4 linked regions of the Homo sapiens genome follow. The protein of the gene in region 1 interacts with the protein of each later gene in a pairwise test. Each region holds a gene or a part of one and is shown on either strand. Other genes may lie near its edges. The genes, in order: CCSER2, CRADD, OFD1 and KIFAP3.

Evidence for each region.
Region 2: the proteins of CCSER2 (region 1) and CRADD interact in a two-hybrid assay, tested with the Homo sapiens proteins (one large-scale study listed by BioGRID and IntAct).
Region 3: the proteins of CCSER2 (region 1) and OFD1 interact in a two-hybrid assay, tested with the Homo sapiens proteins (one large-scale study listed by BioGRID and IntAct).
Region 4: the proteins of CCSER2 (region 1) and KIFAP3 interact in a two-hybrid assay, tested with the Homo sapiens proteins (one large-scale study listed by BioGRID).

Annotation. Positions count from the first base shown.
Region 1 is NC_000010.11:84,326,981-84,331,973, reverse strand, and holds the start of CCSER2 (serine-rich coiled-coil domain-containing protein 2), read right to left. Parts: upstream 3,386-4,993; 5' UTR 3,166-3,385; intron 1-3,165. UniProt on the Homo sapiens protein: Microtubule-binding protein which might play a role in microtubule bundling.
Region 2 is NC_000012.12:93,679,714-93,684,065, reverse strand, and holds part of CRADD (death domain-containing protein CRADD), read right to left. Parts: intron 1-4,352. UniProt on the Homo sapiens protein: Adapter protein that associates with PIDD1 and the caspase CASP2 to form the PIDDosome, a complex that activates CASP2 and triggers apoptosis.
Region 3 is NC_000023.11:13,733,319-13,738,308, reverse strand, and holds the start of OFD1 (centriole and centriolar satellite protein OFD1), read right to left. Parts: upstream 3,562-4,990; 5' UTR 3,238-3,561; coding exon 3,226-3,237; intron 3,062-3,225; coding exon 2,963-3,061; intron 1,832-2,962; coding exon 1,631-1,831; intron 1-1,630. Other genes in the region: TRAPPC2 (trafficking protein particle complex subunit 2), read left to right, coding at 4,177-4,259. UniProt on the Homo sapiens protein: Component of the centrioles controlling mother and daughter centrioles length. Recruits to the centriole IFT88 and centriole distal appendage-specific proteins including CEP164. Involved in the biogenesis of the cilium, a centriole-associated function.
Region 4 is NC_000001.11:170,064,109-170,068,460, forward strand, and holds part of KIFAP3 (kinesin-associated protein 3), read right to left. Parts: exon of another isoform or gene 3,396-4,352; intron 1-3,395. UniProt on the Homo sapiens protein: Involved in tethering the chromosomes to the spindle pole and in chromosome movement. Binds to the tail domain of the KIF3A/KIF3B heterodimer to form a heterotrimeric KIF3 complex and may regulate the membrane binding of this complex.

The sequences.
Region 1 (4,993 bases):
CAGCTATATACTAACGGCATTATCTGCAAAATAGTAAACAATCTAGATGTCCAATTATTAAGAAATGACATTGTAACACTGTATAATCATCTAAAGGTATAAAAACTATAGCAAAAATAAAACATCAAATATGAAAGCAAATATTAAGCATTATGTGTATGCTTTATCATATAAAACCACTGATATGACAAGAAATAAGAAGAAAAATTAAGTTTGTTTTGATTTTTAAAATTTCTTTGACCATTGTTTGTAAGATAAAAAGCCTTTTGGAATTGGTCAGGCCCACACCACTAAGTACACATTTCAACTTTTTAGAGACAGCCACAATCATCAATTTTTTCCCCCAAAATCCTATCACATAGGAGTAAGATAGGCTCCTCTCACAGACAAGCCACACAAGTAATTTTAGCCATGCTATTAGCCAGCTGCAACCTTCTTATATTAAAATCTCATTGTACCATCAAAACTTAACTGTATGTGAGATGTCCATATGGTGATCAGAAGCCACTTGTTATGGGGCATCTGGAGAGAGCGCCCCAAGCACTGAAGTTAAAACTATCTGGCTGAGAGGAATAGTGAAGGTTAGGTTTCTCCCATATCCCCAAATGAATTATCATGTTTCTCAGCCACAAGGGTTCTAAGTCCCTAGGAGTGGCAGCCATGTATTCAAAGAGGGAGAAAGTGCAAGCAGATTTGCACTCCCTCTGAAAAACTGGCAGCTCCTTCATTTCACCCCAAAGCACCATGGAGTAGTGAAAAACACACAATGATGAGGTCAGGAGATATGAGATGTAGGTGAGCCTAAGCAATCTCAAACAAGTTGTCTTTTTAGGCTGAGTTGTTTAACCGTAAAATTTTTAAAGTTGAACCAAATAATCTGTTAATTCTTTCAAGTTCAATATTCTATTGACCCTTTTTTCAGAACACATCCAAGTCGCTCACAACTCCCATTCAAATTGTAAAACAATTAAGATTTAGAATTAGGAGACTGGGGGCAAAAGTGAAATACACAGATGGTCAAAAGACCTGGACTGTAATCCCCGCCATCCCTTTCTACCTGCGTGACTTTGCGCCTCAAAATAAAGTTGTAGGACCAATGAAGCAGCAATCTTTATTGGTCATGCCCTTTTTATTCCTGTATCATAAAATGGATTTTTTTTAACATAACTGGGGTTTCATTCCTAACCAGCCTACAATCCCAGCACTTTGGGAGGCCGAGGTGGGCGGATCACGAGGTCAGGAGTTTGAGACCAGTCTGGCCAACATACTGAAACCCGTCTCTACTAAAAAAAAATTAGCCAGGTGTGGTGGTGTGTGCCTATAATTCCAGCTACTCAGGAGGCTGAGGCAAGAGAATCGCATGAACCCAGGAAGCAGAAGTTGCAGTGAGCCGAGATGAGGCCATTGCACTCCAGCCCAGGCCACAGTGCAAGACTCTGTCTCAAAAAACACAAAAGAAACCCCAAAACCTGGTGGAGACAGACACATAAACAAATCATTAACTACCAGTTGACAAATACTAACTGGAGAGTGTACGAATCAGTTAAGACAAGAGGGATGAAATGTCTAGACAAGCCTCAGAAGTGCTACTTTCGTAAGGTCTTCAAGGGCAAGTTGTTTACTAGGTAGAGAATTCTCAACAAAGAACACTGAAAAACCACAGAGGAAGATGTCATCTTCAGAGAACTGCAACAGTCTTATATAGAGAGGGCAGGCATAATGGTAGAAGATGACACTAGAATGGAGACAAATACCGCTAATCATGAAGGACTTTGAATTTTATCGATATAGACTATGGAGAGTCACTGAAGGACTTGTAAATATGGATTCAAAGTCCCTTCCTCCAAAATAGTCAAAGGAGTTGAGTCAAAGCAACAAAAAATGCAGGTCTGAATGTGGAAAGGTAGAATTTTTACAGAATTCTTAATAGAGACTTTCGGCTTGCTTTCAGGATGGCTTCTAGTGCTTTCTTAACTATGGCTTATGCTGAAGTACGACAGTATGAATTATGGCTAAAGGGTTCAACAAAGTGTGCATTTTTAACCTGAAGATTATTTGAAGCCAATGTTGTTTAGAACACAAACGAAAACAAAAAATAACAGTAACAAGCTTTCATAAATTAAGAGAAACAGTAATAAAGTCCAAGAGGAAGAAGACTGATTTCAGGCAAACACTCAGGAATATTTACATTTTTATCACATATGGATGACGGATAAGACATGTTTTGAACCCATCTTTTGCAGGAGAGCATCTTAAGTTCCTTTTGGTTAAAGAGCAGCTGCCATCTCTAAAGTCTCTAGTCTAAAAGATGATGCTTTAAAAAAAACAACTGGCCAAATGAATAGGTTCCGTCATATTTTAATGCTCAGGAGAAAAGGAATGCTTTTCATATGGCTATTTTAAAAAGCTTAAAGCTCAATTTCTCTCTTACAGGAGTGAGCTACCAACACTCTAATCTGAGACCAGAGTCCCTGCGTCAGTCATTTCCACTCCGCTAAGGCCTTGTCTGGGAGCAGCCAGCCTCATTGGTCGGGGAGCCCACACAGATGAATATGCAATTACTGAAATGGAAACAAGCTTCGCCACCAAGGACCACCACAAAGGAGTCCCTTCATTCCTCCTTTTACTTTATCAAGAAAGTAGGTGCATTATTTAAAAATGTATGAAAATACATGTCTAAAGACAAGAGAGAAGATCTGAACCTACGGCAACGGTGTGCCCCACCAAAGTTTCACCTCAGGATGTGTTTTAGGGTGTGTCTTTCATTTAGCCCAGTAATTGAAAGAAAAAAAAAATCGAACTCATTCGGGGAGCCCCGGTACTTTCCCTATCCACCCTCACACGCAACCAGGCTCCGAAATCAGAGTGCCTCAGCCTCGCCCTGATTTCTCCTGAAAGGCGGCGGCGCCCGCGGCCCGAGGCCCCGCGCTGTCACAGCCGCAGGGAGGGCGCCCTCCGGCCTCCCGGGTCCGCGCCCGCCCCGCGTCCGGCGGCTCGCGAGGGGCTAGAGAGGCTCACCCTGGAGGCCGGGTACGGGAGGGCGACACCGCCTCAGCCCGGGAGTTCGGGCCTCCGCCCCGCCCCGGACTGCGTGCCTGGTCTTGGGCTGCCCCCGGCGCCCGCCGCGACCCCGGCCCCGGCTCTGGCCCTGAGCCCGGATCTCACCGTGCGGAGGTCGCGCTGCCTCCTCGGCCGCGGCCCAGCTGCAGGCCGCCCTGCGACCTGCGGGCCCGAGGACGGAAGGTGAGACGAAGGGCCGCCCGTCACATCCCCGCCAGCCCCGCCGCCCGAGCCGCAGCAACCAGCATCGCGTCCGCGGCCTGAGGGAGCGCCGGACTCCAAAGCCGCCGCGCCCCCTCCCTCGGCCGGCGCCCGCCCGGACTCCGCCCTCCAGGGCCGGCGCACCGCGCACGCGCAGTCCCGCCCCGCCGCGGGCCCGTGCGCAGGCGCGAGCCTCACGGGGCTACGGGGACCGCCCCCACCGCCTGATCCGGCCTCAGCCCACCTCTGGCCCCGCCCCGCCCTCACGCCAGGCTTTCCCAAGCTCCGCCTCCGCTTCGGGCCCCGCCCCCTCCACTGACCTTGCCTGGCCGCCTCCTGACTCAGGTTTTTGCTGGGCCCACGCAGTGACGCCAGTCTTGCGGCTGACCTCACCTCTAGCCGTCCCCTGGACTACATTTGCTGCTTGAGTGCGGTCAAACCTGACAGCTCCTCCTCCTGGATGTGAAAAGTGAGGAGTGGTCTGAGCATTGGGCATGACTGAACCACGCACCTGCCTACCGCATCAAAACACAGGATCTTGCTAAAGCTGAGGGGAAGGGGCACCCCAAGTGCTGATCTGGTTTTCCCTTTTTTTTTTTTTTTTTGAAACAGAGTCTCGCCCTGTCACCCAGGTTGGAGTTCGGTGGCGCTATCACAGCTCACTTGCAGCCTCCTGGGCTTAAGCGATCCTCTCGCCTCAGGCGTGTATCACCAAGCCTCCGAAATAATTACAACTAAGACCACACTAGTCAAAGTAAACTATCACAAGTTGACCCAAATACCCGGCTAATTTTTATTTTTTCTTTTTAGAGTTGGGGGAAGTGGTCTTACAGGCTAGTCTCAAACTCCTGGGCTCAAGCAATCCTCCCACCTTGGCCTCCCAAAGTGTTGGGATTACAGGCGTGAGCCACAGCTCCTGGCCAATGTGGTTTCTTTGCCAGAAACCAGGTCTTTCTTCCCTTTGGGGCTTCCATCCCCCAGAGGCCATCTCTTCCCCTCTTGTTTTTCCTCGACGCGGCCAGTCCTGCTGCTGAGAGTCCTCAGCCTGGAAGGCTTCCGGGCCTGGCCGGCTGTTTAAAGCTCTGGAGTTGCCCTTACCTGGTTGTAGACTTGCAGTTCTCTGAAATCCTCGTCGGCCCCAACAGCTCGGTTGTAATAACATTTCAGGAGAACTGCTTGAAAAATATCCAGTTCTTTCCTGTCTCCAGATCAATGATACTCAAATGGAAAAAGCAGACGGAATGCCTGATTTGTATAACCACACTTCATTTAATAATACACTTTCATATTTAGAAAATAATGTCTTTTAAATATCAATCCCTAAGATATTTAATGTATTGGACAATAATGTGTGCTTAAAATATTGACAAAGACTAGGTCTAAATGCTGTGCAATCTCTCTTTGGATTAAGTGAGATTAGAAAAGCAAACACCAGGCCGGAGGCGATGGCTCAAGCCTGTAACCCCAGCACTTTGGGAGGCCAAGGTGGGAGGATCACAAGGTCAGGAGTTCAAGACCAGGCTGGCCAATATGGTGAAATCCCGTCTCTACTAAAAATACCAACAAATTAGCCGGGCGTGGTGGCGCATTCCTGTAATCCCAGCTACTTAGGAGGCTGACGCAGGAGAATTGCTTGAACCTGGGAGGTGGAGGTTGCGGTGAGATGAGATCATGCCACTGCACTCCAGCCTGGGCGGCAGAGTGAGACTCCATCTCAAAAATAAAATAAAAT
Region 2 (4,352 bases), on another chromosome or scaffold:
GGCTGGGTATACACAGAAACCTGGGCCCTCTGCAGACTCTCCCTTTACCGAGGGAAGGGTCTTGCTATGGATACTGACCCACTGTTCTCACTCTAGCACACAGGACGCCACTAGGCAAACACTACTCAGTCACAGTGGAAGCACATGGATAGACTGCAAGCTAGATACACTGAGACCAACACTGAACTTACATGCAGAGCAAGGTCAATTACGTGGTATGATTGGAGGAACCTATGAAAAGAATCCCAAGCTAGAAACCTCTCTAATAAACCCATCACAATATCTAAAATATCTGCCATTAAGAGCTCAGTGACTTTAGATGCATCCAAGTATGCAACTCAGAGCTAGAATGTATCTCAGGAGGGCGGCAGGTGTGGTTCTGTGTTGTCACTCAAGGCTGGCGCCACAAGGGGCAGGCAGAGCCCTTGAGCCCACAGGTAGAGGGGAAATGGACTAGCCAGTCCTGCGCACTGCTGTTGTAAGAGCAGCCAGGGAGTCCAGGGCACAGAGTCTATGGGGAGGACAAGATCAAGCCCAGAGAAGGTTGAAGCAAGTGTCAGCTTAGGGACAGCCATTCCAACAGGCTCAAGAGTTGAGACATCCAATGCTGATGCCGGAGGCACCGAGCTGTGTTCCCAGAGCTCTGTTCTTCACTCTCGCCATGGCTAAGAATACATAAAGCATGAATCAAACCAACGGAGGAGAGAAAAACAAAAACACTCCCAAGCTTAAAGGAAGACTGGGGCAAAAGGCAGAGAATCATGGCAGACACCCAGACCCACAGCCAGGGCCAACACAGTGGAACAGGGAGGGGGTCCTGTGGCCCAGGAGTCACTCCCACCGTGATTTACGCTGAGTCCCACCAGATGGGGAGGCTGGGCTGCCATCAACCTCCTTTCCAGATCCAGATTAGCTCAGGCACTGGAGGGAGCCTGTCAGTGCCGACAGGCCCCATGAGCAGTGAGAAGCCAGGCAGGCAGGCACAGGCTGCCTTCACCCAGACACGGCACTGTCCCTATCTCCTAAATGACCTGACAGGAGCCCAGAGAGGATTTCCAGCTGATCTAATGTCTAGTATGTGACCTTGGCCAGAGAGACAAACCATGAAGTGTTCTCTCCACGGTGCCAAGGTGGATTAAGTCATTTTATCACCAGAATTCCTCTTTTAAAAGGTAAGAGTCCTTACAGGGTGAGAAAAACACAAAACCAATGATCCATTAACAACTTTAACAACTTAAACCTTTTTTTTTTTCCTAACAGAGATTGGGAGACTAGTCACAGAGGCAGATTCTGAGAGAATCAAAAGGTTTAGGGTGTTTTTGTATGTTTTGAGATTTGATGGGGGTGGCGTTCAGAAGAGTAGAGAAGAACAAGATACAGCTCAATTCTCTAAACAAATTACATCCAGCACATAAGTAAAAAGCAACTAACCAGGAACAATCACCAAAATAAAGCCTCTGAGACAGCTCAAAATTTACAAGTGAAACAACGAAAATTAAAACAACAAACCAATAAAGGGGAAACCAAGCATCTCTGGGAAGACCAACACAAGAAAACCTTAATAAGATAAAATCAGTTCATTCTTAGAGAAGGATCAACGTCTTGGCTAAAAAAGAAGGCCATTCCTTCCCATTTGTTCTCAAGGCCTCCCAAGAGACTACTGAATCCATACAAATTAATTAATAAGTATGATCAAAATGAGGAAAAGGTAGGAAGAGTTTAATGTGTACATACATTAAGAGGTTAATGTGTACACACATTCTCCTATAGTCTAGATCCTCAAAACTCAAAGATATCTTTACAAAAATTTAAGTGGACTATTTTAAATCTTACTAAAATTACTCAATTACAACACTGGAGAAGCACCGAGGTCTTAGGCAGTAGGTTCTGGATTTCTTTTTTATAGGGACGTTAAATTGAAGGGATTTCAACTCTGATACTCTTCCCAGGATTTACAAAATAACAAAACCTAGGTTTCCAATTCAGTAAATCCCAATTTAATTTTAGAATTAAAATATTGCCACCAATTAAATTACTTTAAACATGTAAAAAATATTTTAAGTTCTGAAACAAGAGAAGGTGTTAACTATCAAGTTTAAATGCATAATTTCTTCCATTACTTCCACCCTTTCCTTCCCACACACACAAAAAACATATATATCTCTCTCTATATACATATATACATATACACACACACACACCTCTAGAACTTACGGTATACAGGATTTTCAAAAACATATGAAGATTTTAAAAGTGATTTTTAGGAGATAGGAAACTATAAAGTGAAGAAGTGAATGAATGATAAACCCCCAATTCAGGGCTTTTCACTGCGTGGGGGTTGGGAATGAGACAAGATTGGGAAGGAGTGCCCGGGGTTTTTAAAGGCAATCGTAATATTATTTTTCTTAAACTGAGTGATGAGGAGACGGGTGTTCGCTGTACCATTATTCTCCATATCTTACTTATATTTTGTAATATTATTTAAAATAGTCAATATTTAATAAATACAAGTCTTTTTTAAAAGAGTTTATGTGATTGTCACCGTGGAAGGTATTCAAAGACATATATAAATCAAACCCTCACTTCAGAATGTTTTTTTCAATAGCAGTGTTACTCAGTAAAAAGTAAAACAATTAAGATGACTGTACGAATTTGTTCCAGAGCCAACCTTCTACAGAATTAACAAATCTTGAGAAAAACCTTATTTTTCTAAACTTCTACACAGATATGCTCAATTTTTTTCCCATTATGTACTGCTTCATTCTGTTTGCTTTTTTAAAAAGCTATTTTTCCTCAGCTTCTCTGTAACTCTCATCATTTTGTAAAAAATGCCTTAATTCTTTCTAACTCTCTGAATGAATCTGAAGAAATAATGGGGTTATGGCCGAGCATGGTGGCTCACGCCTGTAATCCCAGCACTTTGGGAGGCCGAGGTGGGCGGATCACCTGAGGTCGGGAGTTTAAGACCAGCCTGACCAACATGGAGAAACCCCATCTCTACTAAAAATACAAAATTAGCCGAGCATGGTGGCACATGCCTGTAATCCCAGCTACTCGGGAGGCTGAGGCAGAAGAATTGCTTAAACCCGGGAGGCAGAGGTTGCAGAGAGCCGAGATCGCGCCATTGCACTCCAGCCTGGGCAACAAGAGTGAAACTCCGTCTCAAAAAAAAAAAAATGGTATTATACCTCTACGAATGACATACAACAGCATGATCTGTATCACCCAAAATGACCATAAAATTAAATTCAGTATTTTGATAGTGAAAGGCTTTCAGTTCACCTGTTTTGTTGTTTCCAACTATATGATGCCAGCAGAAACCTCTAAGTCAAATATCAGGAAAACACCAATAATTTTTTAACATTTCTCCAACTCTATGTTATCTATTCTGCTTTCAATAAAGTCATAAAAACATCTAGATACATTTTGTTCAGACATGTGGAGTATTTAATTTTGTAAGGACAATCCAAGCAGTGAATTCCAGTGGTCCTCAAAAGCCAGCTATGTCTAATATTTCAAAAAGCCTAAAGATACATTTAACTGTAACGAGCCCAGACTAGGAATGAAAATACTTTTGCTTTTTCCACTGGGATCTTACCAGGTCTTCCTAAAGTTAGCTGGCTATGTCATGCTGATCAGGTATTCAGACATATGTCAAAATATGAGGTCCATGGAGCAAAAATAGTAAAAGTGGTCTTATTATCAGTATTCATTTTTTTTAACCAGTATTTAAAAAATAGCAACCACGAAGTCTGGGGCCCACTGAACCGGAATAGTTCTATCACTCTTATCAGAAACCCCAGAGAACCTTGATTCTCTAACTTTGTTAAAAATTTGCAAGCCAACTTTCAATTACTTTTTTTTTTCAATTTTTAATTTTTGCCAGTTCAGTTCTCTGCCCCTCTATCTTTGTGAAACAGAGTCAAGGGAGGTTAAGAAAAAGCAAGTGTTTCCATATCACATCTTCTTCCTGCTACAAGCCAGGCTAACAGAACCAGAACTGTTTCTCTCTTCTCCAGCTTCCAATTCTCCTTCAAATTAAACTGAGACCCTCCCCAAACTATTGCTCTTTGCAAAATTAAATACTCCAGTGTCTGAACAAAGCTAAACTAAAAAGGACACTTTAAACGAATAACCTTTAAAAACAAACTAAGTCAGCCTTCAAAATAATCCCCTTTGGCCACACAGGACAGCCCAGGGGACAGGTGCAGGGCATGCCTTCCTAGAGGCTGTCTCCTCCTCCATGAATCTGACCTTTTCCAGCTGGTAGCTCTGGCACCTCACAAATCAGTTGTCAGTAGGCCGAATGCCTGCTTTCCCATCTGCACTTTCCAAATGGCTCCTGATGCCAA
Region 3 (4,990 bases), on another chromosome or scaffold:
AGTAAATATTCTGCATGGGCATTTTACATTAGTAGAAACCGTTAAGTTGTATGAATAGGATTAATTCCTGCTATATAATTGTATTATTGACTATTACACAATAAGTAAAAGTATAAAGTGATTAGAAAGTTAGAGAATGATGTATCAAAAATGAATTCCAGGCCAGACACGAGGGCTCATGCTTGTTATCCCAGCTCTTTGGGAGATTGAGGTGGGCAGATCACCTGGGGTCAGGATTCGAGACCAGCCTGGCCAACATGGTGAAACCTCCTCTCTACTAAAAATAAAAAAGTTAGCCAGGTGTAGTGGTGGGCACCTGTAATCCCAGCTACTTGGGAGGCTGAGGCAGGAGAATTGCTTGAACACAGGAGGCAGAGGTTGCAGTGAGCCAAGACTGCGCCATTGCACTCCAGACTGGGTAACAGAGCAAGACTCTGTCTCAAAAACATAAATTAATAAATAAATTCCTAATGCTGACAAATAAAATTTGGTTGCTTATGAAGAAATGCAAATTATTTAAGTTTTCATTCAAATACTGTACTAAGCTTGTGTCACTAAAACTTTGGAATATGAAACTTTTGGATAATTACAGAAAACACAAAGAAAGTAAAAACATATGAACACCACCAAGAGTGAAATTTATTTTATTTTTGAGACAGTCTCGCTCTGTCACCCAGGCTGGAGTGCAGTGGCATGATCTCGGCTCACTGCAACCTTCACTGTAAACTATGGCCTCTGGGTGATAATGACATGTCAGGGTAGGCTTATAGATTGTAGCAAATGTACCACCTTGATGCAAGATGTTGACAGTGGGGGAGGCTATGAGTGTGTAGGGGCAGCAGGTATATGGGAATTCTCTGTACTTCCCACTTAACTTTGCTGTGAACCCAAAACTGCTCTGAAAAAATAAAGTCTATTAAAAAAAAAAAAACACGCACATATCCACAGGGAAAGTCTGCTGTATCTGCCTTTAAAATAATAAAGTAGTACTAATGTTCAACAGTAATGGTGAAGAAATATAGTTAAAATAATTAGAAAAGTAGTAAAAAAAAAAAACAAGTGTTTTTAATATTTGAGAACTTTACAGATTTTTTAAATTACGTATTTCTCACTTATCTAATTACAAAGAGAAACATCTGAAGAAACTAGTGCAGGAAAAAAAGAGCTCATGTTAGAGATCTAGATTTACCACCCTGCATTGTCACTTAAAAGTTACTTGATGTTGGGCAAATTGATTCACCTCTCCAGAGTCTGGTTCCTCATCCGTAACACACAAAACATCTGCAGTGTGCCTATCACAGTGCCAAGCTTACAGCAGACATTCAGCAGATTGGCAGAGTCTTATTAGACAAGATAGAGGATAGATAGATCAATTATAGGTCTGAAACATTTAGAGATTCTATACATCACTGTTTTATGTGAGACTAAATGAGACGCCAAGAAATTAATTTCAAATTTAGTACCCACTTGTTATATAACAAATATATTATGTGCAGGTACAATGTGAATTCAAAGAGGAAACAGAAATGGACCTAGTCGAGGAGCACTTAGCTATCATACAGCACTTTACTGTCAGCAGAGGAAGAACCTGTTAATAAAAACTTCAGAAACAGAAAAGGAAAGACTTTACCTTTTCTTTTGCCAAACCACTTTCTGGAAAGAAAACAGAAAGTGAATATTCATAGCCACATCTTTGTAAGTGATCTGCCACTAAAGAGTTAGAGGCGCCTATTAAGAGGGAGCTCCCTTCTACTGAAATGGACCGAGGCTGCAGTTCTCCACTCAATACAGGGTGCATCAACTCATGAATTAGCTGGTTTCGAAGTTGTGTCTAGCATAAAATAAAAACAAAAATAAAAAAGAAACACAAGGGAAAGAAATTTCAGCAGGACTGTTTCATTAGAGATATACACAGATGAGCTACATTCATTGGAAACCTTCCTTCTATTTCCATAATGGTTCTAGATCCATGGCCAGAAGTTAGAAACCTTCCCCTGCACACTTTGTCTTACCCCGTGAGACAAGCAGTCCAGTGGGTTCTAGAAAAAGCTTTCTTTCCCCAGCTTCCAAATGAAACGGGTGGTTAGCCAGATCCACTTGCAGACTCATAACTTCACTTCCCTAGAAGCCCATTTCAGCAGCTTACGATTGGGATATTAAGTATAGGAAAAAATTCTGCCACTTCATCACACCTCTGTGGACTGTTGGAGAATATAACCAAAATATTCAACAACAGGGGACTGCTATATACATTACAAAAATATCCAAAGATAAGCCTGTTGCCACTGAAAATGAAGATTTCAAAAAACTTTTAAGGAAACAGGGAAATGCTCACCATATAATTTAAATTAAAAAAGGATACATACACAGGATATAGCTACATATTTTAAACGTAAAATATGCTTTTGAAATGCATATTTCAATGAAAACACGTTGAGCTAATCCTACTCCTGGCTGTTAATCCAAATATAAAGCATACTAATAGGTATTTTCTGCCCAAACTAAACATTCATACATTTCAATATAGTTTAAAGATAAAATTTTTCATTTCCCAAACTATTATTAAGCAGTACACTAGTATTTTCTATATGGTGTCAATGTCCTTCATCCAAATGTATTACAAACCCACTTATTAATTTAGGAACCTATAAGCCATATTTATAAAACAAGCCTAATCTTACTGTGTTCATTATACAAATATTTCCTTCTCCTATCTTATTGTCAGTTCAATTAATTATTTGAATATGCTCCTTTAAGACGACTCAAACTCAACATTTTCTCAAACATTTTCAAGAGACTGTAATGTTTCAGGATACAGAGTTATTCGGGAATATAAAAATGTAATTCACCAATACAATCTATGTATCATACGATTATTAAAACCTAAACCTTGATTGAATTTGAACTACCTGTTACAGGTTACACTTGTAAAAGCTGACACAGATACGCCTAAATCCGATACCTTGAGTGTATCCAGTATACCCCGATCCTTAAACGTCTGGTATAGCTTTTTGCGCAGTTCATCTTGACTCAACACATCAGCCACGGTAAACATGTTGGACTAAAAGACAAAATGGTTATAGGTTACCTGCGGGGCAGAGGGAACGTGAACGTCTGAAAACAGACCAGTGGCCTCCGGGGAAGCCATAAGAGGCCTAGCGGCGAAAGTTTAACGAACACAAAACAAGACTTTATTTCCGCCCGAGAAGGGGCAGGTGTGTCTACCTGCGCCATCATCAGGCGTCAGCTCCCTCCGGAGCCCGCCTCGCTCGCCCCGCCGCGGCCCGAGTTTAGTGCCCAGCCCGGGCGGTGGGGCCAAGACGAGGGGGAATCCCTGCCCTCAGAACCCTGCCTCTGTCCCGAGGGTTCGGGAGGAACAAAGGTGCTGAACGTTCTCTGCCTCGCACTCCCAACTAGGTTTTCTAGCAAACACGCGAGCTTCCTTTCTTCGCGGTTCTGAGGCAAGGGCGAGGACCCAGGCACGACTCAAAGGCGGCTGGAGGGCGGGGACCCAGACACTAGGGACTGAAGGCAGCGAGGCAGGACCGCCTCACAGCCAGTCCGGCAACTTCCGGAAACCTGCTAAATATAGCCTTCCCGAGCTGAAGAGCTACGGCGCATGAGCTTGGTTGCCCAGCACCGGCCGGAAGCTCCGCCTACGTATCGCGAGAGCACATCCCAGGGTATCGCGAGAACTGCTTCGGCGTTCTGGCTACAGGTTCGGGGCGCGGGTCTCTTCCGCGGAAACTGACATTGCGTTTCCGTTGTCGGCCTCCCACTGCAGGTAGGGAATGGAGCAAGTGCGGCGGGGGGCGGGTGTTTTGAGTCCCTGGAGGACTTCGTAGCCCCTGCGTGACGCGGATGTTGGTCCTGTACCTCCACCCCTCCCCGGGGTGGCCGGGCCGGACCTGCCAGCCCTCCGCTGGCTCATCCGCGCAGCCCTTCCACCTGCAGACGTCCGCCCTCTCGGGGGCTGTGGTTTCGCGGTTCACTGGGTCATTCAGCTAACCCAGGGTTTCTTAACGGCTGCACTGTTGCCTTTTGGAGCCGGAAGATTCTTTGTTTTGGGAGGCTGTCCTGTGCATTGTAGGTTTAGCTGTATCCTTGCTCTCTATTTTGTCAGTATCACCTTCTCCCCCAAGTGTGACAACCAAAGATGTCTCCAGATATTGCCAGATGTCCTCTTGGAAGCAAGATCGCTCCGGGTTGAGATCCACAGAGCTAAACGTTTTAGAGTACCAACCATTGTGTGCTGTGAGGTAAAGGTGAGCCAGTCCTCATGATGCTTAAATGTAATTAGAAAGGAAAGGAACCAAACCTCTCAGAAGCGATAATGAAAATGTTACAGCCAGAGAATTGAACAAGAACTAAGATACATTGTAGACTGGATAAAGAGTTTAAAGGGGAGGTGGTTGAAGATGGAAGTGATCCAGATCATCTCTGTGGAAAAAGTGTGTCTTTATCGGGGCCTTGATGGGTAGGATTCGGGTGGTGAGCAAAAAGGAGAACATCACAGGAAGGGGAAAAATGAGCAAAGGAATCATTAAAAGAAAAAAAAAAGCCACGACCTTCTTGGGAGCAGTGAGGAATCTAGCCTGACTCCAGAGTTGTGTGCTGGGAATATAAGCCTTATATGGTATCTAAGTCCTGTGAGGACAGAATTGGATGTCAGCTTTGTGTACAGCATTGAAGATGAGTACGATGAGTTTTGATCTCTGGCTGTGAAAAACTTAAAGTATTTAAGAGGCAGTAAGAGTGACAGGACTTCATAGGAGGTGGAGAACCTGTAAGTTTTTGTTGGAAACAATGGAAAAGGAGGAGAGGCTTAGTTGGATTTTAAAGGATGGGTAGTGGTTGCAGACAGAATAAAGGAGAACATTCCAGGCATGAAGAGAGAAATGATAGTAGCTCTGAACTCGATATAGTCAAAGTGAATTTGGGAGAAAAAATAAGTAAACGAGTCAACGCTAGCAGAGGTGGAACAATAGGG
Region 4 (4,352 bases), on another chromosome or scaffold:
CTGTTGCTTAATACCTTGATATTAATGCCAATAGCTTGAACATTATTTTAGGTTTTCTCTACAAACTAATATATAATTTGTGAATAATATCAGTTTCATTTCTTCTCTTCCTATCTTTATACCTTTTCTATTTCTTATCTTACTACCTGTTTAGGACTCCTGGTGAAATGTTGAGGTGGTTACATAGGTATCCTTGGATCATCCTTAATGTTAAGGGAAATGTTTCTAAAGTTTCCTCATTTACTGATGTTACTTTATTTTTTGAGAAAGGGTCTCACTCTTGTCACCTAGGCTGAAGTGCAGTGGTGTGATCACAGCTCACTGCAGCCTTGCCTCCCAGGCTCAGGCAATCCTCCCACCTCCACCTTCCAAGTAGCTGGGACTACAGGCATGCACCACCATGCCCAGCTAAGTTTTGTATTTTTTATAGAGATGGGGTTTCAACATATTGCCCAGGCTAGTCTTGAACTCCTGGGCTCAAGCGATCCACCAGCCTCAGCCTCCCAAAGTGCTGGGATGACAGGCATGAGCCAACACACCTGGCTAGTTTCCTCATTTAATATGTTTATATCATAATTCCCTTTTATTTATGGCTTTAGTTTTTTCCTTAAATCATGAATGTGTAGTGAATGTCATCAAATGTTTTTCTGCATCCATTGGAGGATCATGTATTGTTCTTCTTTAATTCATAAATATACTACATCAAATTCATTAAATACATAAAACCATACTCATATTCTTAGAATAAGCACAACTTGTTAATGCTGTCTTAAAGCACTGTTAGATTAAATTTGCATCCTTGCTCATTCAGCCTGCAATTTTCCTTTCTAATGTCCTTTTTCTGACTTTCATATGGAGATTATTCTAAAATCTTAATATAAATTAGTTGAGGAGTATCCTTTTTTTTCTAGACTTCTTGGAAGAGTTGTACATAATTGGAAGCATCTGTTTCCCAAAAATTTTGTTAGAATTTGACTTTAAAACTGTCTGGATGTAGCAGATTTTATCAGTATGAAATACTCCTCTGTAGTTTTTACAGTATACGTTTTCTTAAAGCCTATTTTATCTGACATTAATATGGTCATTTTAGCATTCTTATGCTTACTGTTTGATTGCACCCATTTACCATTAACTTACCATGTCCATACTTAAAAGTATATTTTTTGGGGATGACAGATAGTTGGGTCTTGCTTTTCTTTTTTCTTTATAAAAGAAATATTGGTGGCCGGGCGCAGTGGCTCACGCCTGTAATCCCAGCATTTTGGGAAGCCGAGGTGGGTGGATCATGAGGTCAGGAGATCGAGACCATCCTGGCTAACATGGTGAAACCCTGTCTCTACTAAAAAATACAAAAAATTAGCTGGGCATGGTGGCGGGCACCTGTAGTCCCAGCTACTTGGGAGGCTGAGGCAGGAGAATGGCGTGAACCCGGGAGGCGGAGCTTGCAGTGAGCCAAGATCATGCCACTGCCCTCCAGCCTGGGCGACAGAGCAAGACTCCACCTCAAAAAAAAAAAAAAAAAAAAAAAAAAGAAATATTGGTAATCTCTGCCTTTCCATTGGAACATTAAAACCTATGCTGTCTGATACAATAGTCACTAGCTACATGGGTCTATTTAAAATTAAATTTAAATACATTACATTTTAAAAATAATTAAAAATGCAATTCCTTAGCTGTACTAACCACGTTCAAAGTGTTCATTAGCCATACAGCCAGTGGCTATGTATTTGATGATGCAGCTGTAAGTCATTTCCATCAGGGAAGAAAGTTCTATTGGACATTATTGTTTTGGATCATTTAATGCAATGACTGACATACTTAGATTCAGATCTATCACTTCATTTTTATTTCCTGTTTGGCCCAACTATACTTTGATTATTTTCCTAACAGCCTTGTGAATTATTATTTTTTAAATTCCATTTTGTGTAGATGTTTTCACTATACTTTTAAAAACTGTTTTTGGTGGTTGCTTTAGGAAAAACAATGTTTTAGTTACCTTTTTTTTTTCACAAGGTATTTAAGAATTAATGCTGTGCTACTTCACAAATTGCAGGTCTATTGCCTACACCCCCCCCCCCATTCTTTATGTTATAGCTGTCATATGCATTATGTGTACATACCTTATAAACTCACACAAAAATTTCATAATTTTTGCTTTCAAGTCATATGTATTTTTAAAAAATTAAGAGGGAAATAATCTCTTATATGTACTCAAATATTTATAATTCCTGATGCTTTTCATATTGGTAAAACCAAAACAAGTTTTATATTTCTATTACTAACATTAGACTTGGTAATAGAGAAACAGAGGATTAAGGTAATTCAAACCAATGCACCTTCTAAGAAAATCTTAAAAGCTGGGGGCAAAAACACGTATGTGTGTATCTGTTTGAGGCCATAAGAGAACTAAAAAGGCACAAAAAATTACAGTGCCAAGATCCAGGAGAAAAAGAAAATGAAGAGAGGTAAATCTTGAATTTGAGGCTACTTTTCCCTAGAGGTATCTGCTAACTGAAAAGAGAGGGCTGAGAGGTTGAGAATCTTTTAATAATCACATGAGGCTAGAGACACAAAAACTGGATTCTAGAGTGCACCAAACAACAGTGGCTCTGGTAAAGCTCCAAGCTTTAAGCTTGAAACAGGAGGACTACCTCCTAGGAGTAACTGTGAAACAGATGCAGATCGGTCACCAACAAGACTAAAAAGCCCAGTTTAATGTAATTGAATCTCTGAGAACTAATTAAGGTGACCCTAAATTTTCAGTAATCCTTACTAACATAAATAAAATATAATCTTCTCTGGAAAAAGAGAACATCATCCTGAGCCTCAAATGATTATTTATACATTTATATTCCTATATATGATACTCAAAGAATAGTCATCTTCAGAAAAAACTAGATAATTTTTTTAAATTTCTAGAATTAAAAATACAATAACCAAAATTAAGAATAATAATAAATAAATAGGTTTAATAGCAGATTAGATACGGGTAAGGAGATAATTTATGGCATAAAATATAAGTCAGAAGAAAACACCCAGAATAAAACATAGAGACAAAAAGATGTAAAACACAAGCAAAAGTATAATTCAGCAATGCATACTGAGTAGGTCTAGCATATGTACTTGAAGTCCCAGAAAAAAGGTGAGAGAGAATGGGTACAGAGCAATATATGAAAAGATAATGGCTAAGTGACATCAGTGAAAACGGCAGAGTAGGGACCTCTAGAGGCTGGCACTCCCCAGAAGCACTAAAAACTTGGCAAAAAAAACCTATCACAATCAACCTCATCAGAACTCTGGAAGACAGTCAAAGGTTTACAGCAACCAAGTGAATGTTTAATCAGAAGAAAGGTTACAGAAACAAGGTAGGCGATCATTATGGTCTTTTCACTTACCCTAGACATCCACCCCACTCTCAAGCACAGTGGCAGTCTTCAAGATGGCAGCCCACGTTCCCACTGTTAATACTTGGTTCTAGAGGAGTCAAGTGGACCTTGCTCCCAAGGAATTTTGTCTGATTGTTTTGCAACTGACTGAAGTTTCCTTTGAGGTCAGCTGCAAGGGGCTTTCCTTTGTTTTGACTAATTTTAAACTCTTATCAGGATAGTGCAGCTATGCAGTCACTGAAATCAGTGAAAGCCAAGCATACAAGCTGCTGGCCCCTGGGATAAATAGTAATAGCTGGGTCAAACAAAACACAAGCTGAAAGCCCAAGAGGAAAGTCCAGGGAGTCAGACATTTTGGGGGAATAGATGCTTTGAAAAGCTATTGCATATAAAGAGAAATCTAGAAATCCATGAGCATGCTCAGGGCAGAATACATACCCAGAAAAAACCTGGGAAGATCATAAGCTTTTACCTCTGGCTGGTCTTCAGGCTCTGTGCAAGCAGCAAATGAAGGCTAAGGTAAAATTGTAAATTGCCTGGCTAAGTGTTGAAGCCATATCCAAACACTGAGTCAACCTACAAAGATCTGAAGAGTATTTTTTTCTTTTCTTTTTTTCCTTTGGATACCATAATATTCAAAATACCCAGTTTTCAACAAAACAAAATATGAAACATGCAAAGAAACAAGAAACTCATTCTCATTCTCACAATAAAAAAAATTAACAGAAACTGTCCATGCTACAGCACAAACACTGGACTTATCAAAGACTTTAAATCAACTGTCTTAAATATGTCCAAAGAGCAAAAAGAAACCAGTGCAAATAACTAAGAAAAAGGAGAAACACAATGTCTCAACACATAAATAGTTTAAAAATATATTATCATAAGGATCCAAACAAAAACACTAGATCTGAAAAGTACAATAACTGAAATAAAAAAATCACTACAGGGTTTTTAACAGCAGAT